Regions from separate parts of the Homo sapiens genome. Here regions 1, 2 and 4 are each linked to region 3. The links come from fine-mapping of genetic effects on gene expression. A gene starts in region 3. Each other region holds a variant in brackets. All regions are shown on one strand. Distances are from middle to middle.

The links. PIP is the estimated chance that this variant, and not a neighbour inherited with it, causes the effect. A credible set is the group of variants that fine-mapping cannot tell apart.
Region 1: its variant is the best candidate, but not a certain one, in a credible set for the expression of CMIP in whole blood (TOPMed, PIP 0.61).
Region 2: its variant is the best candidate, but not a certain one, in a credible set for the expression of CMIP in whole blood (TOPMed, PIP 0.85).
Region 4: its variant is the best candidate, but not a certain one, in a credible set for the expression of CMIP in whole blood (INTERVAL, PIP 0.75).

The regions. Positions count from the first base shown.
Region 1 is chr16:81,701,536-81,706,681 of GRCh38, forward strand. CMIP (c-Maf inducing protein) reads left to right here. Exons shown (of 21, transcript NM_198390.3): 16 at 125-265; 17 at 1,087-1,134; 18 at 2,404-2,550; 19 at 3,964-4,069. Among named protein-coding and RNA genes, the nearest start is that of PLCG2, 75 kb to the right of the region's middle. RefSeq lists an enhancer at 3,145-3,646. The variant GAC/G (reference allele first, on the strand shown) is at 2,079.
Region 2 is chr16:81,474,454-81,479,599 of GRCh38, forward strand. The region is part of intron 1 of CMIP (c-Maf inducing protein); the gene reads left to right. It also overlaps the pseudogene PPIAP51. Among named protein-coding and RNA genes, the nearest start is that of CMIP, 32 kb to the left of the region's middle. The variant C/A (reference allele first, on the strand shown) is at 2,846.
Region 3 is chr16:81,442,370-81,447,515 of GRCh38, forward strand. CMIP (c-Maf inducing protein) reads left to right here and starts at 2,439. Exons shown (of 21, transcript NM_198390.3): 1 at 2,439-3,172. The coding sequence starts at 2,873. RefSeq lists enhancers at 1,280-1,812, 3,977-4,742, 4,743-5,146 and silencers at 2,022-2,121, 2,232-2,581, 2,652-2,701, 3,132-3,431.
Region 4 is chr16:81,686,698-81,691,823 of GRCh38, forward strand. CMIP (c-Maf inducing protein) reads left to right here. Exons shown (of 21, transcript NM_198390.3): 11 at 5,078-5,126. Among named protein-coding and RNA genes, the nearest start is that of MIR6504, 78 kb to the left of the region's middle. RefSeq lists enhancers at 1-524, 4,403-5,042. The variant T/G (reference allele first, on the strand shown) is at 2,796.

The DNA.
Region 1 (5,146 bases), 260 kb after region 3:
CCGGGGCTGCAGAAAGGGGATAGTGGGGTTGCTGGTTTTCAAAACAAGGCCCTTGGGGTGCACAGAGTGTGCTGAGCTAGGGTGGCAGGCCGGGTCCGTAATGCACCCCTGCGGTTCTGGACAGATCCTGTGCTTGATGCTGGAATACAACATCATCGACAACAACGACACCCAACTGCAGATCATCTCAACCCTGGAGAGCACAGACGTGGGGAAGCGCATGTACGAGCAGCTGTGTGACCGGCAGCGGGAGCTGAAGGAGCTGGTGAGTCCCCGGCTGCTCCGGACCACTCCCCTGCCCAGCAGGCCAGGGGGGGCCAGGGCGGGATGCGGGGCAGCTAGTACTTGGACCTGAGTGGACCTCAATCTCGTTGAATTCTCCTCCAAACCCCAGAAATTGGTATTACCACCTGCCACTTTTCAGGTAATCAAAGAGAAGCAAAGCAATCCCCAGAGTCACACAGCTCATTGGGGCCTGGCCAGGACATTGCCCACCCTCCCTCCTCCATGTCCCTTAGACCCTTCCATTTCAGTACATGGGGGACCCAACTTCCAAATGCCAGCACCCACACCTCTTTGCTGAAGGACTTTGTATGTCCACATGCATATACTCACACATGTGTACACAGAAGGACGGAAGGGGCAGGAAATTCATGCCTTCTGATCTCCTGGAGCAGCCCTCAACCAGTCCCTTCTGGGGAGAGTGTGTAGAAATACCCCAGCTCCCTCACCCCTTCAGTGAGATATGTTTGAGACATGGCTTCTCCACCATTTCTTAGAGTCCCCCGGTGGGATTTGGTGCCAGTACCCACCCAGTGATAGCTGGATTGATAACACCCCTTCCATTATAGGTAGCCACAGTGTCACTTCCCCACTCTCCCACTGGTGTTTCTTGGGATCACCCTCCAGTAAACCACCTGTGCTCAAACCTCATCTCCGGGTTTGCCCCTGAGACCAAGACCACCGTGTTGCCTTGTACCACCAAGAAAATAACGATGGCTCCATGAGTGTTGTTAACAGAGGTGGAAGTCTAGAATGGAAACTTGGGGAAAAGAATGGTTGTAACCAGCCTGGTTTCTGTTGCAGCAAAGGAAAGGCGGGCCCACCAGGCTAACACTGCCCTCCAAGTCCACAGTGAGTTGGTTTGGTTCTCTTTGGGGCTGGATGGAGAAGGTGGGTTGGTCCTCTCTGTTGGGGAACGGCAGGTGGTGTCTGCTGCTGAGATGGGAGGTGATGGAGGGCGGGGCACAAGGACCCCCTAGTACTTAACACGCCAGCTCTTCCAGGAGGTAGCTGGGTTACAGGAAGAGAAATGAAAACCAAAAAGGAAGTTAAAATATGATACAGATTGTTGGTGATAATAGTGTTGATATCTAGTTATTAATAGTACTTGGAATAATAGCAGATATACCTTGAGCATTTGTGTGTCAGATGCTCTTCTATTAGTTTGTTTTATCCTCACAGCAACCCTTGGAAGCTTGTGTATCTTACCATTCGCATTTCACAAGGTCTTTAAGGGTCTTATTTCCTTCTATTCTGATGCCCCCATTATATTTGACACATGGCTTCTACTTCCTGGACCAAAAGGGCTGCTCAGGCTCCAGACCTCTTGTCTCCATTCCAGCCAGCAGGAAGGAGAACGTGCCCCTTCCTCTTAAGAAACTTCCTGGAAGTTCTACTTGACATGTCTACTTACATCCCATTTTCCAGATTTAGTGTGTGGGGCCACACACTAAATCAGCCTTCATTCCGGGCAGCCACAGGGCCGCTGACACTCAAGGATGGAGGGGAGTGTGGAGGTTGTCTTAGGAACCTCCCAGTCCGGTGCTCAGGCATGCGCTGGTGTCTTCAGGCATTAGAGTTGAGTGTGGCCTCAGTGTTGGCATGAGCTGCTGCCCAGGAGTGAGGCAGCCAGTCACACACCCTGATGCACAGACACAGACACACAGAGACACACCAACACACACACACACAAATATACACAGACGTGCACAGACACACACATGTACAGACACATGCATACACAAACGTGCACACAGACACACACAGATATACACACATACAGGCACACACACACA[GAC/G]ACACACACACACAGACGCCTGTGGGAGGATCGTGGCCTTGGAACACCCCGCTGGTGCCTCAGGGTGTGAGTCACAGCACTGGAGGCTTTCTCCTCCGCCTGGCAGCTGTCGTCCATGGGATGCGTGGCAGCCCCTCCCTCTCTGGCCACCCCCTTGGCCCATCCCACCGAGCTGTGCCCCCATCTCAGCTCCTGGGATTTACCGCCCCCCAGGAACAGCTCTCTGTAGGGCGAGGGGAGAGGAGGAGGATAGGGGATAGGAGGGCTCAGGGTCTCGGGAACTCCCAGCAGCACCCTCAGGCCTCTCCCCCGTCTGCCCGCAGGACGCTGACTTGGCTCGTTTGCTGAGCTCCGGCTCCTTCGGAAACCTGGAGAACCTCAGTTTGGCCTTCACCAATGTAACCAGTGCCTGCGCCGAGCACCTCATCAAACTGCCTTCGCTCAAGCAGCTGAACCTGTGGTCCACTCAGGTACGTCCTCCCGCCCTGCTGCAGTCCCCCACACCCTCCTCCTTCACCTCTGCACTCTCCTCCCTATTCCCCCGTACCATCTTCCTTTCCCCTCAGCCTCCTCCCTGCCCCCTCCCCCTCCTTCCTGCCCCCTCCCCCTCCTCCCTGCCCCCCTTACTCTCCTCCCTGCCCCTTCACCCTCCTCCCTGCTCCCCTCACCCTCCTCCCTGCCCCCTCACCCTCCTCCCTGTCCCCCTTACTCTCCTCCCTGCCCCCTCACCCTCCTCCCTGCCCCCCTTACTCTCCTCCCTGCCCCTTCACCCTCCTCCCTGCTCCCCTCACCCTCTTCCCTGCCCCCTCCCCCTCCTCCCTGCCCCCTCCCCCTCCCCTACCCACTTACCCTCCTCCCTGCCCCCTCACCCTCCTCCCTGCCCCCTCACCCTCCTCTCTTTCCCCTCACCCTCCTCCCTGCCCACTCACCCTCCTCCCTGCCCCCTCACCCCCCCACCCACTCACCCTCCTCCCTGCCCCCTCACCCTCCTCCCTGTCCCCCTTACTCTCCTCCCTGTCCCCTCACCCTCCTCCCTAACTCGTTCACCCTCCTCCCTACCCCTTCATCCTCCTCCCTGCCCCCGTCACCCTCCTCCCTGCCCCCTCACCCTCCTCCCTGCCCCTCACCCGCTTCCCTGCCTACACCCCAGGCATTGCTTACCACACGACCCTTCCCTCAAGCTCAGCACCCACTCCCTGAGGCTAGAGGAGGTTGAGGACCTCATGAAGCCCTGCAGCCCATTTCCCATTTGGAAATAATGTGCCCAGTTCCGAGTCCTGAGGTTCTGAGAGGTAGAGCTGAGACGTGAGCCAGGCTTCGCTGGCCTGCGGGGGGCTGCGCAGGAGGCTTCTGGGTCTTTTTGTTATAGTAACACCAGTGGCTGCTGAGTCCCAGCTCAGTGTGAACTGCACTGCTCAGTACTCTGCACAGGGCAGATGAAGGGGCCTTCACTGCACACCTGTGAAGTGCAGGTTCTACCCTCACCCTAATTTTCCAGAGGAGAAACTGGGGACAGTCCCTGCAGCCTGCCCCCGGCCCAGCCCTGTCCTTCCACTGTCCACCCAGCAGGAGAAAGCCACCTAGGCAGCATCTCGAAGCTAGGGAGAGACAAGTTCAAAGCCCTCCTTCATGGAGGCAAAACTGACTCCAAGGGGGCCCTGGCCTGGCTCCACTCCCAACAGCAGAAGCTGGATTCTAACCCGGTTCAGAGAGGCGTGGGATTGTTTAGGGGACGTGAACGCAGCCCAGACCCCAGGGCTTGGTGGGCCATGGGCCTCAGAGCCAGGCTCTGTCCCCATCCCTTTCCTCCACCTCTGCCCCAGCCTCAGAGTCACTTCCCCAGGAGTGGCCGGGAGAGGGCTGAGAGTTTCTGTGCTCTACAGTTTGGAGACGCTGGCCTTCGGCTCCTGTCGGAACACCTCACCATGCTCCAGGTGCTGAACCTGTGCGAGACCCCGGTCACAGACGCTGGCCTGCTGGCCCTGAGCTGTGAGTGCCTCCGGGGCAGCTGGGGGGTGAGGGGCCGCTTGATTCATTCCTTCCTTGCTTCAGCCAAACTGGCCAAGCACTGACTTTGCACCATGCACAGATAGAGAAATTCGTTCATTCACAAACGTGTTCACTGCACACCTGCTGTGGACCAGGCACCATTCCATGTGCCAGGAACAACACAGGGAAAAATATCCCTAACCTCAGAGAGCTTATATTCTAGAGGCAATAGAAAAAATGAGTAAGGCCAGCCCATAGCCTCTTGACACTCACAGTCCACTGAGGGGTCGAGTTCAAGGACGGGGCTGTAGTACATTGCCACTGTGGTCCCCTGACCAGTGGTGGCAGCGTCTTCTGGGGGCTGGTCAGAAATGTACATTCCCAAGCCCACTCCAGACCTCCTGACTCAGACACCGTACGGTAAGCAGATGCCTGGGAGGCTCCCGTGCCCGTTGACATTTGAGAAGCCCTGTCATAATAGAAGGAGGCACAGAATTCTCAAGGAACCTAGAAAGGCCAGTTCCTGTGTGCCAAACCCCAGGTGACTGAACTAGCCTCAGGGATATTGAGCCCGGGATTCTGTATTTGACCAGCTTTCCCTTTTCCAGGCCCACTGCTTTAGACGGGAAGACCCGTGGCTCAGTGGGAAGAGTCAGAAAAGGCTTCCCGGGGAGGTGCTGTTGAGTCTGGGTGTGAAGACAGATTTGTGGGAGTTGGCCAAGGGGGAGGCACCCTGAGCAGGGGCCATGACTCCTACCGGGCCGCTGGCAAATGCTGGGTGGCTTGGGAGGAGGTGGGAGCAGGTGACTGGGTCAGTGGAGGCAGAGCGGCAGCGCTCGGCCAGTTTGGCTGCAAATGCAGATGCGCTGCTTCCACTGGAGTCCCCCGGGGGGGCGCGGTCCTCATCAACAGCACAGATTCCTGGTCCCTGCTGCGGCCCTGCTCAGCGTCTCTGGGAGTGGGTGGAGGGGTCTGCCCCCCGTGCGACTCCAACACAAACCAGAGGTTGAGGCTTGCTTTCAAGAAGCAGCACCGAGTCAATGACGACGGGGGGACCATCCGGGGTTCCCTTAGTGG
Region 2 (5,146 bases), 32 kb after region 3:
CGTCGCACACTACTTCTGCTTCATGTGAGGGGTTCATGGTGGCTTCTCCCTACCTTCAGACCACACCTCTGGTGGGAGGTGCTGCGTGAGGATCCCAGGGGTGAACTGAGTCAGGTCAGAGGAGCAGGGAGCCCCAGCCCCTGGTGTCTTCTTACTGTGTGGTCTCTTCCGTGTCACCGCACTTCTGTGGAAGGGGAATGATGGGGGAAGTGGAGGAACCACTGTCCGCCTGCGGAGGGGCCTCAGTGTTGGCCGTGCTCATGGCGCCCTCCTCCTGGGGCTCCCTCTCCTCTGGTCCTGCCTCTCCTGCACGCCCTTCCTGCCTCCTTGGTGCCAGGGGAGCCAGCCCAGGACAGTCTCTGTGCCTAGGCCCTGCCAGCCTGGCTGCCCTGCCTCCAGCCATGGGGGGCGGGCGGGGAGGGAGTCGACCAGTGCTTGTCTTTGCAGAACTGCTGGTGGACTGAATGTGGTTCTGGGGGTGGCCAGGCCTGAGGGTAACTCATTTTGGAAGGTTTGGGATGTCACTTCACTTAAGGAGCCTTCAGCAACATGGAGTTTAAGTGGCCCTCTTCACCGTGGCCTTGTGGCTTCATGAATGGAGCTGCTGTGGTCAGCATGGCTGGCCCTCTGGAGAGGAGGGTGGGCCATGAGGAGAAGATGCTGTGTCTGGAGGCCTTAACCCTTTCCTCCCTTCTCTCCCTCCCTCCCTCCTGTCTCTTTCTCTCTCTGTCTCTTTCTCTCTAGGTGCATAAAAAAAATTGCTTTCAGATAAAGTTGACATGCAATAAACTGCATATTCTCCCTTTGCTTTTAAAATGATGATCTGTTTCAGCCATGCAAAGCAGGGTATAAAATAATATTTCAGTGTAACCACTCAGCGGAAGAAATAAACCATTCCAGTTGCAATACCTGATGTACCGTTCTCTGATTTCAAACCCTTCCTTTTCTCTGCCCCGACTTTGATGTTTATTCTTGTGCATATTTTTGTACTTGTACAACTACATACTCTTATAGAACACTCCATAATGTTTCCTAGATTTTTTTTTTGTTATTATATAGCTTTTATTTCACAATCATAAACTTAACTCAACTCTGCAATCCAGCTAGGCATGGAAGGGAACAAAACATGGAACCCAAAGGAAACTGCAGTGAGAGCACAAAGATTCTAGGATACTGTGAGCAAATGGGGCAGAGGGGTGCTCTCCTGAGCTACAGAAGGAACGGTCTGATGGTTAAGATAAAACACAAGTTGCTGGGTGTGGTGGCTCACTGCCGTAATCCCAGCACTTTGGGAGGTTGAGGCAGGTGGATCATGAGGTCAGGAGATCAGGACCATCCTGGCTAACACGGTGAAATCCTGTCTCTACTAAAAATACAAACAAAATTAGCTGGGTGTGGTGGGGGGCGCCTGTAGTCTCAGCTACTTGGGAGGCTGAGGCAGGAGAATGGCATGAACCCGGGAGGCAGAGCTTGCAGTGAGCTGAGATTGCTCCACTGCGCTCCAGCGTGGGTGACAGAGTGAGACTCCTTCTCAAAAAAAAAAAAAAAAGATAAAACATAAGTCAAACTTTATTCAAGTTGTCCACAGTTAGCAATAGTGATCTTCTTGCTGGTCTTGCCATTCCTGGACCCAAAGTGCTCCATGGCCTCCACAGTCTTCACGTCTTCTTTCACCTTGCCGGAGACCACGTGCTTGCGTTCAACCACTCAGTCTTGGCAGTGCGTGTGGAAAACTGGGAACCGTTTGTGTTGGGTCCAGCATTTGCCATGGACAAGATGCCGGGACCTGTATGCTTTAGGATGAAGTTCTCATCTTCAAATTTCTCCCCATAGATGGACTTGCCACCAGTGCCATTACGGCGTGTGAAGTCACCACCCTGATACATAAACCCTGGAATGTTCCTGTGAAAGCAGGAACCCTTATAACCAACTCCTTTCTCTCCAGTGCTCAGAGCGTGAAAGTTTTCTGCTGTCTTTGGAAACTTGTTTGCAAACAGCTCGAAGGAGATGCGGCCCAAGGGCTCGCCGTTGACAGCGATGTCAGAGAACACAGTGGGGTTGACCATGGCTGATAGAACAGGTTTCCCGACGGCGCCGGTGTCTGCAGAGTGGCCATGTTTCCTAGATTGTAAAGTTTCATATAAATAGTATCATTACTTGGGCCTTCTTGTGCAACTTGCCTTTTTAGTTTGCTTACTTTCTGTATATGAGATCCATTGTATGAAGAAGCCGTGGCATATTTATTTATGCATTCTGTTGATGGTCTTCTAGATTGCTTCTAGATTTTTGCTGCTGTAAACAATGCCACAGTGAACATCTTCATAGATAATCTCCATTTACAGGAATCCAAGAGTTTCTCCCATTTCCTGTTTCTTCTCCCTCCCACCCCTTCTTTCCTTTTGTCCTTACTTCCCGACGTCAGCCAAGTTCAGCTTCTCAGGCTCCCTAAGGATCTTTAGGAGACGGTGAAGATGAATGAAAAGACCCCAGCCCCAGCGTGGAGGTCAGGGCTCCTGGGTTTCAGCCTCAACTTGGTGGACCTCTTTGGGCTTCATCTATAGTAGGACCATTTTTATCTCGTGGGGCTAATTCATGCCGCGTTGAGCTGAGCACCTGGGCATATGGTTGATGCTTGAAAAATGGCAGCTGGTTGTGTCTATCTTCTGATTTTGAAGATACACATCGGGCTTGGAAATGTCGGCCCTGAACTCTTTTTTTTTGAAATGGAATCTTGCTGTGTTGCCCAGGCTGGAGTGCAGTGGTGTGGTCTCGGCTCACTGCAACCTCAGCCTCCTGGGTTCAAGTAATTTCCTGTCCCAGCTTCCTGAGTAGCGGGGATTACAAG[C/A]TTACACCACCACACCCACGCCTGGCTAATTTTTATATTTTTAGTAGAGACAGGGTTTCACCATGTTGGCCAGGCTCGTCTCGAACTCCTGGCCTCAGTTGATCTGCCTGCCTTGGCCTCCCAAAGTGCTGGGATTACAGGCGTGAGCCACCGCACCTAGCCTGAATTCTTAAGGGGTAGATACAGGGCAGGGTATGGACTGTGCATCCAGGTCCCCTCCTTTCCCACTGAAGGCAATGGCTGCCCTCCCTGTGTGAAGGCGGCTGGACTGTCGTCATCAGCACTCAGAACTCCTTGCTCCTGCATGTAAGACTCCGGGATCATATAATATTTAAAAATGCAGCAGCTTAAACACAGCAGAAGCTTGTTTGTTTTCTCTCGTATAAAGGAAATCTAGGGTCTAAGTCGTGTGAGGGTTGCCGTGGCTGGCCTGTGGCTTTGAGGGCCTAGGGCCCCTCCATGTGGCTGCTCCTCCGTTCTTAGCACCATGGGCCAAGAGAGGCTCAAGTTCCTGCCATTTTGCCTGCCTTCCAGTTAGTGGGAAATGGGATCTTACCATTTCGTTTGCATTCCAGTTAGCAGAAAGTGGGAGTGGCAGGGGAGTGGAAAAGGACTTCTGCCCTGTTAAGGTGACTTCTGCTTTCACCTTACTGGCCAGACCATCATGTGGCATCCCCGGCTGCAAGAGCATCTGGGAAATGTAAGTGGGAGCCATGAATCCCACCCCACAGCAGGATTTTTATTATTGAGAAGGGAGAGGAGGCCAGAATAGGGTGTTGGCATGGGCCACGCTAGCCATCTCTGCCACTGCCCTTCCCCCCCACCCCAGAAAGTATCCCAGGGCCAGTCTCCACTTCACTCTTGGGAAGGCGAAGGCTGGTCAGGGAGACACATTGCGTGGGCATTCCCTCAAGCTTCCGGAACAGGCCATCCTTTGAAAGCCACTCACATGTAGCACAGTGGAAGGAAGCAAGGCTTTTACAGGGGCAGAGGGAGTGGTAAGGTATCAGCAAGCCGTAGAGTAGAACAGGGAGCCGACAGTTCTGCATGGCGCCAGCAGCTCCTGGGAAGGGGTTGTAGGGCCGAGATTTTGGCGTCCTGTATGGAGAGGAGCAGCCTGCCGGAGAAGATAGTGAGCTCCCTGAGAAAGCAGGTGTGCAAGCAAAGGTCAGATGGACATGTGTCAGTCAGGGAGGCCACCGAGTGCGTTCTAGATCCAGAAAGCACATTCATGGAATTCCATTGAGGAATTATGGAAGGGATCTCATGCAGGGATGGTGAATGCACAGACCATGTGTGGTCCCCTCCACCCTCCAGCCCTTGTTGGTCCTCCTGGTGCCCTGCAGAGCCGCAGCCACCCCAGAGCCTCCCGGTGGGAAGAAGTTGGCACCTGAGATAAACCCATTTGCTTTTCCCACTTGAATTCAGTTCTCTTGTTCCTATAGGTGTGGACGTTGAGGGCCAGCCTGGAAGCGCCATATCCAGAGGCACTCAGGGAGGGGAGCAGGAGACCCAGGGCTCTGGGATTCAGGTCCCTCTGTCACACCCTGCCCTTCTTCTGGGTCTTTCTTCCCCACCTCCCAGCCAGAAATTGCCTCCTGGAGCCAGCCCAGCCTCGTCTTGTTCATTGGAGCTCAGTTGGAGACCCGTCCTCACCCGAAGCAGGGTGAGAGGACAGCACCTGCCACCTTTAAGTCTGGGCTTTGCTGGACGCCTAGGAGAAGCCGGGTCCTCAGGCACTCGAGTGGGAAGTGAAAGTGTGCACCAGCTCTTTAGTTCTGCTATTGACCGGACAGGGTTTTTCCTGGGGGGAGGGGGAAGGAGCTGCTGTGTTTTCTTTGCTTAATCTGGCCTTGCCCCACAGAGAAAACACATGCGTAGCCTCCATCCTGTTTGTAAAGAGGGCGGTCAGCTACTCGAAGTTGCTCGCCTGGAAAAACTGGGAAGATGTCATCTCCTATGGTAAGGAGGTGGGGGCTACAGGTAGCTGAGGTGGGCAATGAATGTCTTGAGGGACTGTCAGCATGTGACCTTTTTTTAAATGGTGATAAAATACACGTAACATAAAATGGGCCATTTTAACCAGTTTTAAGTGTGCAGTTCATTGAGTACGTTCACATTGTTGCACAACCATCACCCCCATCCATCTCCAGAACTTTCTCATCTTCTCAAACTGAAACTGTCCCCATTAAATGTTAACTCCTAGTCCCCCTCCCCCAGCCCCTGGCAGCCACCATTCTCTCTTCATTTTCTATGACTTTGACTCCTTTAGGGACCACATATGAATGGGTTAATATAGGA
Region 3 (5,146 bases):
CCTACTTAATGTTTACAAATCAACCACTGTACTGGGCTGCATGGAGGATGTCTGGAATGGTCCTGGAATATATCAGGGATTTGCATCCTGCTAAATCTCCTCCTTCTACTGGAGTTTTGTGCCCTGTATGGGTAGGGGCGTGTCCACAGATGTCCCCGAAGTGGACAGCAGCTGCTTTGCTTGCCACTGGGCCACTCCACCCAGTGACTTTGTGCTAGCCCTTGTTGCTTCCTTCTGTGGGGGGTAGGTGAGCATGAAAGTCTCCTCACTGGCCTCCTTGCCTCTAGGTTTCTCCTCTGCAATGCTCATCTGTGCCACACTGCAGCCTTTTGAAGAAGCCATGTACAAGTCACTCCTTTGCATGGCCCATGTGGTGTCTCCCCACTGCTCTAGTCCCTGGGTTTGCATTTCAGGGTGCTGCTTGCTCACCGCCTACATCTCTGCTCCACCTCCTCCAGGGACCTTGCACCCCATGGCAAGTGAGTTCAGTTTCCTGAACAAGCTGAGCATCCTCCCATCTCTTTGCCTTGGTAGGAGCCAGTTCGTCTTCTTGGAGCACCTATCCCCTTCTTTACTTGATTCCTAAAGAACTCTTAGAGTACCCTGGTCCCCCACACTGGGTTAGACATCCCCCTTTCTGTTCCTGGAGCACCAAGCACAATGTCTGTTACTGTTCTGGACTCTGACCTCCATGCTTTGTGGTTGAGGATGAGGACAGCACCTATGTCATAGGGTGTGAGAAGAGAATGATGTGTGCGTACAAAATTCTTAGCACATAGGAAGCCTCTGGCCACTGTGGTTATTATAGTCATTACCATTAATACCCTAGTGCCTGGCCTGTGACCAGCATACAGCAGGAGCTCAATGAAAATATTTGAACAAAGGATCTAATCCCACCCGCTTAATGGACTGGGGGGTTTCTTGGCCCCAACCACCCCCCAACACCCACATATCTAGGGCTTGCCCCTTCATGCTTGGTGGTTTTCTCAAGGCTGTTCAAGCTCAAAACTGGAAGGAAATGGCAGCAAATTGTGGGGAGCTAAGGAATTTCTAACTTTCTAATCTAATTGTGCCTCCCCAAGGAGGCATCTCCTGGGCAGGCTGGATGTGAGTCTTCTTTCCTTGGTGAGGGATGCAGCCTGGGACCTGCCTTTCATCCCCTGCCTGAAACCCTGGCCAGGCTCGGGGAGAGGGTCCTCTGGGGAGCACCTTCATGCTGCCTGTTCTTGGGAGAGGGGGGGTGAATAATTTCCACCAACGGCACAGATGCTGTGGATATTCCGCAGTGTTCACGACGCAGTTCAACACACGCTGCACACATTCATGTGTTCACTACAGAGGCGCCTTCACTTAAAAAGGCAAAAATCTAGGGTTTTAACGTTATTAGCTGCAGGAGCACGTGGAGATAAGAAAACCTGGCTGAGGAGCTGAGCATTTGCTAGGTGGCCTTAGGTGCCGGCTGCTTGTGATGGCAGAAAGGGAGCTTTTTGCATCCAGGCTGCAGTTCCTGATACCCTGGGTCACAAGAGAATCGAATATGGTTCTCTCGTGGGCTGGTGCTGGGCCTGTGAACTCAGATAAAATGACCAGGTGGGGTCCCAGGGAAGGTGAAGTAGGGGGAGCTGCTGGGGTGCGCACAAGAGGGGTGGCTGTGTAGGTTGGGGGGTGCTTTAAGTGGGTTCCTAGAAGAGGCTCTGTCTCCCTGGGCAGAAGAAAGAAGGGGGATGGGCGGACCGTCCCCTCTCTCCAGAAGGTTTGAGGACCCCCAAGGCCAAAGCCAGCAGACGTCAAAGGCCAGGAGTTCGAGGCCGGCTGGGTCCCGCAGTGGGAGACAGGGCAGGGTGGGCTCATCCTCCGGATCACCGCGGGGACACTTTCAGTCGGGAAGGCGTCCCCGTCCCACGGCCCCATCTGGCCAGCCCGCTGGACAGCCTGGACAGCGGAGGGGGCGTCAGGGGTCGAGGGTTCCAGTCCCCGTCCTTCCACCCAGCCCCCGGCCCTCGGGTATCCTTCTTTACCCGTCCGAGTCCGGCCCGGGGGCGGCGGGGGTGGGTGAGGCGCGGGCCCCCAGGCTCCGGCAGCCTGGCTGGGCTCCCGCCCGGGCACCCGCGGGGGCGCGGCTGGCGTGACGTCACGCGCCCCGCCCCCGCGCCCCGCCCCCTCCCCACATTCCAGGCGGGGCGGGCCGGGACCCCGCGGGGCTCGCCCGCCCCAGCCCCCTCCCCAGGGGCTGCCCCTCCCGTCGGGCCGCGCCTCCCCGTCGTGGGCCGCGACCCCGCCCGGACCGCGGACTCCGCCCGCGAGAGGCCGAAGCCGCCGCGGCCGCCGCCGTTGCCGCCATTGACGTCAGAGGGGCGGGCACATGACCCTGCGGGGACCAATCGCGCGGGCGCCCCGGGCTCCGGGAGCCCGGCGCGCGGCCCGCCCCGCCCGCGGCCACTCTCGCCCGGACGGCCGCGCGGACACACGCTCTGTACACACGCGCGCGGCGGCGCGGGGCCCCGAGACACGCCCGCCCCCACCCCGCCGCCCCCACCCCGGCGCCCGCCCTCCGCGCCTGGCCCCGGCCCGCCCTCGGCCTCCCCCGCCCCTCCCCGTCGCCCGCCGAGCCCGGTCAGCCGCCGCGAGCATGCACCCGACGAGCTAGGAGGAAGCCCGGAGCCCCGCAGGAAGCGCCGAGGCCGGCCCAGCCCGCCGCACGCGCCGCCCCCCGCGGGCAGCGCCCCCTCCCCTGCGGGCGCCCCCAGCCCCACACCCCCCCACCTTCCCGGGGGGTGGGGGGGTGCGGGCCGCCGGATCCGGGGGCCCCGCCGCCCCAGCAGCCCAGGACAGCCCCCTCTCCCCGCCCCCAGCCCCCTCCCCCGGCGCGGCCATGGATGTGACCAGCAGCTCGGGCGGCGGCGGCGACCCCCGGCAGATCGAGGAGACCAAGCCGCTGCTGGGGGGCGACGTGTCGGCCCCCGAAGGCACGAAGATGGGCGCCGTGCCCTGCCGCCGGGCTCTTCTGCTTTGCAACGGGATGAGGTACAAACTGCTGCAGGAGGGCGACATTCAGGTCTGTGTCATCCGGCACCCGCGGACCTTTCTCAGCAAGATCCTCACCTCGAAATTCCTGAGGCGCTGGGAGCCGCACCACCTAACGCTGGCCGACAACAGCCTGGCGTCCGCCACGGTGAGTGGCTCTGCGCGGCTGCACCCCCGCCTCTCCTCGGGGCCCGAGATGCGCCCTCCCTGGCTGCCCCCTGGCGCTGCACCTGGAGCCCAGGGCCTGGGGGGCGGTGGGGGGTGCCGGGGGAACGGGGAGAACCAGGGCGCCTCGCTCCTGGCCTGCTCGCGGGGCTCGATTTTGGAGTCTGAAGCCCAAACCAGCCGACCGGGCTCAGGAGAGACCCTTAAAATGCTGGAGACTCGGCCCACCGCCAGGCTGGGTGCCTGGGGACCTTCTGCCCCCAGCTCTTGTGTTTCTGGTGGCTGGGACTCGAGGATGGACCCGACGCTGGGCCCTGATGGTGGTGGGGGTTCTCTCTGGAAGCCCCTGGCCCATCTGGATCTGAGGGGTGGGGGAGGGGAAAACAAAATACCACCCCTCAGATTTAAAAAAAAAAACAAACAACACAACAAAACCTCCAAACCCCCAAACCCAAAGAATTTCCAGAAGCCAGTTTCTCTGTTTGGTTTACCCGTCCTTTATTCTCTTTCCTGCCAGGGCTGGCAGGCAGAACGGGGTGCTTCCCTTTCTGAAAATCTCATTCGCACATTGAGAGGTTGGAAGTGGAGGGGGAGGGGGCAGTGGTCCTGGAATATCTCAGGACCCAGCGGTGGTCGAGTTCTAGCCTAGAAGCTGCTTGGTGGAGCCCTGGTCCGGCATTGTCTGTAGAGTGTGTGTATACGTGTGTGTTTTGTTGCTGGAGGTTTAATTTTGTTATTGTTTTTAAATACATGGGTAGGACTGGGTCAGCTGGATGAGTCGGAGAGGAAAAACCATTGATCTGTTTCTGAAATCAGATCTGCAAATGGTGGCCTTCTTCGTACGTGGAGAAAGACAGCTGTGGTGGGGTCGAGGGGAGAGTGGGGGTGGCGGGTAGGAGCCTGAACAGGATGCTTTGTGTTTTGAAACAAGGACAGTTTCAAATACCGGCTGTGGCTTGGGCCTGAGGCTTGCCGTGGGGGTCCCATCCTCATTGGGGGTGTAGCTTGTCTTCCCCAGAATGCACACTCCTCCCTGGGGCCACCGTGATCCTGTTTACTAAGCGCAGTGGGAGGGGGCCGAATCCACTGCCTGCCCACACCTGTGCCAAGAAAACCCAGCCAGGAAATAGGGTGTCGCTTACATGGCATGTCACAAACGTGTAGCGTGTGTAGACATTTCCCTGGCATCCATGTTCCCTTGGCGGTGTGTCACAGGCCATGACACATGCCCCAAGGAATGGGGAGGGGGGAAAAGTTAGCTGAAGAATCCTACTCTTTGAACCAGTCCCCCACCCCCCACCCCAGAGCGTTGCAGCCCTCGAGGACTTTTATTCTTAATTTGGGGTCCGACATGCTTAGAGCACCTATTTTCTCTTTCCTGTGGGCACGTTGGTGCAATATCTGCAAAGACTCCTTTTTCAGGGAGGATTGCTGGTCGCGGGGAGGCGGCCCAGTCCCCGGTCAGGCTGGTGCATGTTCTCAAGCCCGTCCCGCGCCACAGGCCGCAGCATTTGGCTTTCCAATGGATGGAGGCGGGAGAGAGCCTCCGAAAATTTGCCAGTACGGAGTGTTTCTGATGTGGGGAGGAACTGGTGACCGCGGTGCCCCCTGCCTGGATTCTGGAGACCCCAGATCTGGCTTCAGAATTTTCACCTGGCTCAGGGGGACTTTATTGGGCTTTTTTTTTTTTTTTCCTCTTACACTCCACAAAATGAAGGGTTGTTGGTGGTGGGGTAGGAAAATGGTTAGAAGGAACAGTGACCTGCCATGGGAAGGCCAGGAGGAGCCCCTTCTCCCTCTGGGAGAAGCCAGGAGTGAGTGTCCCGCTGCTACCGTCCTGTTTCCGGAAAGCCAGCTCTCGAGGCTAATGCCTCCCCACTTACCTCCGATTGCTCAGGAGGTATATCTGAGAGAAAGAGGGAAGGAAGAAAGACCTGAATAGCCAGAGGCCCCTCGC
Region 4 (5,126 bases), 240 kb after region 3:
GGAGGAAGGTGGGGCAGGAAAAGCCCTCACTCAGGGGTTATCTAAACCGCCTGTTGTCGATGGGAGTGAACATTTGTACTTGGTGAAAAAAACATCTCCTCCCGTTTCTATGTAAGGCACAGTTAGACACACAGCACGCAAACCGATACACAGTGTATCTGTGGTGAGTCGTATGTGGGTAGGGGTCCCGGGACCACCCCTCTGCCCAGCCCGGGTCTGAGCACCCCCTGGCCTCTCCCGTGGGTGGTGCCCAGGTGTCAGCGGGGCATCTCTCTGCAGCGCCTCCCCAACACAGACCACTGGACAAGGGTTCAGATCCCACCTCCTGCCCCAGTGCAAGCCAGGATCGAAGTCAGCATCCCACTCGATCTTGGCACCTGGTGGCACTTGCTAGTCCCCCAGATGGAGACTCAACATCCCTTCTGCTCTGAAGCCGGTCACAGGCCCCAGGCTCTGTCATTGGCCCGGTCCCAGTGTGCACTGGGCCTTGTGTTCAGCAGTCCCCTCCCAAGCACCAGCCATCCACCCAGCCCGGGGCCCAGCATGGGGGATGCAGAGATGAGACCTGGGCCCCTCCTGGGGTGGTCCGAGGCAAGATGGTCAGAAGCTGGGGAACACCAGGGACAGCTCTGTGATTCGGATGGGGACTGCTCCAGTGGCCACCCCTCACTTTATGTGTCACGGTTTTAAGCTCTGGGCCCTCAGAGGTGCCCAGGCCTGGCTTAGGCGAGAACTGACTACCTCTGGGTTTGTTTTTCCGCGGAGTCCCTATAGCCAGAGAGATCCGGAACCCAGGTGGGGGAACTGGTTATAAACACAGTGCAGGTGCTGGGGCCGAGAGGACGGGTCATGGTCTTTGAAGCACCTGAGGTCAGATCTCAGCCACTTGCTGGTGACTTGTGGGAAATCACAAACAGCTCTGAGCCTCATTTTCCTCGTCTGTAAAATGGGGGTTGTCATGACTGCAGTCTCTGGGGGCCGTGTGTGAGTGCTCTGCTGTGTGATACAAGCCCATCTGTACTCAGACTGAGACGCCGGCGAGTTCTCTGGACGCTCCCAGCTTTTGGGGGCAAGAGTTGGCCAAAAAACTCCCTCTTTATGAAGCTGTGCTGGTAGGTGGTCGGGAAGCAGCCTGTTGGGCCTCAGGAAACTCCCGAAGCTATTGCTTCCCTGCTGTGGCCTGGCTGTATCACAGCCCTGTGGTCACGGTCAGTGAATTGCCATACTGCTCCTTGTCCGTAATTTGGACTCAGCACACAGGGTCCTCTGGGTAGATCCCATGAGCGAACACAAGCAGTGCCCTTACTTCAAGCCCCGGTGCGCAGGCAGCGCAGAGCGAATTGCATCTGCGTTATCAGCAGTGCTAATACTGTTCGGTTGTGGGACAGTGGTCTTCCCAGGGTCGGATGGGGGTGACACCCTGGTGCCTGGCTTCACCACACACCATGGTGTGATAGAGCCTGAAATACCTGGTTCTGAGTCCAGCTTTACCCCTTCCTAGGCTGTGTAGATGACTCGGAGTGGGTAACTGACCTCTCCCGCTGTCTCTGCACACAGGAAGGAGGCTCTTTCATGAAAGGGTTAAGTGAAGTCAGGTGAACAGCACGGTGCTTCCCGCAGCTGCTCTCACTGAGGTTTAGCCCTCCTTCCTTACCCAGGCAGGCGTTGGCTTTTGCTAAGATCACAGCCGTGGCCTTTCAGGGCTGGTGAGAGCCAAGGCTCTGCTGTCACAGAAGCCTGGATTTGACTCCTCATATGCCACAGCTGTGTGACCTTAAACCTCTGAGCCTCCAGTTCGTCATCTGTTAAGTGGGGTTAGTCACACTGACTTTATTGTGCTCTTGTAAAGAGTAAATGAACTAAGGTATAGCCCTTAGCATCCTGCAGTGTGTGTGGAAAGTCTCCGTGACATCGGAGCTGCTGTTGTTATTGTCATTGTTATTACCGTCATTAGCATCAACTCTGTTTTTTTTTAATATACTTTAAGTTCTAGGGTACATGTGCACAATGTGCAGGTTTGTTACATATGTATACATGTACCATGTTGATGTGCTGCACCCATTAACTCATCATTTACATTAGATATATCTCCTAATGCTATCCCTCCCTCCTCCCCCAACCCCACAACAGGCCCCGGTGTGTGATGTTCCCCACCCCGTGGCCAAGTGTTCTCATTTTTCAGTTCCCACCTATGAGTGAGAACATGCGGTGTTCGTTTTCTGTCCTTGCGATAGTTTGCTCAGAATGATGGTTTCCAGCTTCATCCATGTCCCTACAGAGGACATGAACTCATCCTTTTTTATGGCTGCATAGTATTCCATGGTGTATATGTGCCACATCTTCTTAATCCAGTCTGTCATTGATGGACATTTTGGTTGGTTCCAAGTCTTTGCTATTGTGAATAGTGCTGCAATCAATATACATGTGCATGTGTCTTTATAGCAGCGTGATTTATAATCCTTTGGGTATATACCCAGTAATGGGATGGCTGGGTCAAATGGTATTTCTAGTTCTAGATCCTCAAGGCATCTCCACACTGTCTTCCACAATGGTTGAACTAGTTTACAGTCCCACCAACAGTGTAAAAGTGTTCCTATTTCTCCACATCCTCTCCAGCACCTGTTGTTTCCTGACTTTTTAATGATCGCCATTCTAACTGGTGTGAGATGGTATCTCATTGTGGTTTTCATTTGCATTTCTCTGATGGCCAGTGATGATGAGCATTTTTTCATGTGTCTGTTGGCTGCATAAATGTCTTCTTTTGAGAAGTGTCTGTTCATATCCTTCGCCCACTT[T/G]TTGATGGGGTTGATTTTTTCTTGTAAATTTGTTTAAGTTCTTTGTAGATTCTGGATATTAGCCCTTTGTCAGATGGGTAGATTGTAAAAATTTTCTCCCATTCTGTAGGTTTCCTTTTCACTCTGATGGTGGTTTCTTTTGCTGTGCAGAAGCTCTTTAGTTTAATTAGATCCCATTTGTCAATTTTGGCTTTTGTTGCCATTGCTTTTGGTATTTTAGTCATGAAGTCCTTGCCCATGTTTATGTCCTGAAAGGTATTGCCTAGGTTTTCTTCTAGGGCTATTATGGTTTTAGGTCTAACATTTAAGTCTTTAATCCATCTTGAATTAATTTTTGCATAAGGTGTAAGGAAGGGATCCAGTTTCAGCTTTCTACATATGGCTAGCCAGTTTTCCCAGCACCATTTATCAAATAGGGAATCCTTTCCCCATTTCTTGTTTTTATCAGGTTTGTCAAAGATCAGGTGGTTGTAGATGTGTGGTATTATTTCTGAGGGCCCTGTTCTGTTCCATTGGTCTGTATCTCTGTTTTGGTACCAGTACCATGCTGTTTTGGTTACTGTAGCCTTGTAGTAGAGTTTGAAGTCAGGTAGCGTGATGCCTCTAGCTTTGTTCTTTTGGCTTAGGATTGTCTTGGCAATGTGGGCTCTTTTTTGGTTCCATATGAACTTTAAAGTAGTTTTTTCCAATTCTGTGAAGAAAGTCATTGGTAGGTTGATGGGGATGGCATTGAATCTATAAATTACCTTGGGCAGTATGGCCATTTTCACGATATTGATTCTTCCTATCCATGAGCATGGAATGTTCTTCCATTTCTTTGTGTCCTCTTTTATTTCATTGAGCAGTGGTTTGTAGTTCTCCTTGAAGAGGTCCTTCACTTCCCTTGTAAGTTGGATTCCTGGGTATTTAGCATCAACTCTTAGAAAAGAAGAAAAGCTGTTGTCTGAAAGCAAAAATAGAAGTATCCACCAAGGCCAGGCATGGTGCCTCACACCTGTAATCCTAGCACTTTGAGTTATTTATTTTTTTGAGTCTGAGTCTCGCTCTGTTGTCCAGGCTAGAGTGCAGTGGGGTGATCTCAGCTCACTGCGGCCTCCGCCTCCCAGGTTCTAGCAATTATCCTGCCTCAGCCTCCTGAGCAGCTGGGATTACAGGCGTGAGCCACCACACCTGGCCTATCCCAGCACTTTGGGAGGCTGAGGCAGGCAGATCACCTGAGGCCAGGAGTTCAAGACCAGCATGGCCAACATGGCAAAACCCCATCCCTACTAGAAATACAAAAAATTAGCTGGGCATAGTGGCGCACGCCTATAATCCCAGCTGCTCGGAAGGCTGAGGCACGAGAATCACTTGAACCCAGGAGGTGGAGGTTGCAGTGAGCTGAGATCGTGCCATTGCACTCCAGCCTGGGCAACAGAGTAGGACTGTGTCTCAAATAATAATAATAAATTTTAGAAAAAGAAAAAAAAGGGATCCAACAAATCAGGAGGTTTGACCCAAACTACAAACAAACAGCTTAGAATGTTTGTTGTTTATGATTCTGTCTATAGAATTTTCCCTCAGTTCTGATCACAGAAAGGTGAGAATGGCCCCAGGGTCCCAGCCTAAGCCCCCTACATTAGTTTGCTAGGACTGCTATAAAGTACCATCAACCTCATAGCTTACTCAACAAACATGTATTTCTCTCAGTTCGGGAAGGCACAACCCTGAAATCAAGGTGTGGGCAGGGCTGGTTTCTCTGGAGGCCTCTCTCCTGGCTTGCAGATGGCTGCCTTCTCGCTGAGTCCTGGCTGGTCTTTGCTCTGCGTGTCCGTGTTTCCTCTTCTTCTAAGGACATCCGTCTACAGCCTCATTGTAACCTAATCACCTCTTTAAAGGTTGTGTCTCCCAGTACAGTCACATTCTGAAGTACTGGGGTGCAGAGCTTCAGTATATGAATGGGGGGCAAAGTTCAGCCTAAAACACCCCCTAATGGTCCCAAAGAGGGCATGAACAATGATCACGTAGCCTTGGTTCAAAGGGCATTGTGAAGTCTGGGGAATAGACAGCTCACCCCCTCGGGTGCCATGAGGAAGTCTCTGCACAGGCCCAGTTGTGAGTCCTTGAGGCCACGCTGAGAACATTGACTTGCTCATCCTGGAGGTGGAAGTGGGTGGAGAAGTCAGTGCCACTGACTACCTGCCAGGCTCTCACCCCATCTTTTGGCCCATCTGGGACCAAAAACAGTGCCATAAACCTTCCTTGTCCCAACCAAAGCTGACTGTCACCCTCTCTCATTCTAGGTCAGACTATGATGACTGGAGACCGTCTCTGGCCAGTTTGCTTCAACCC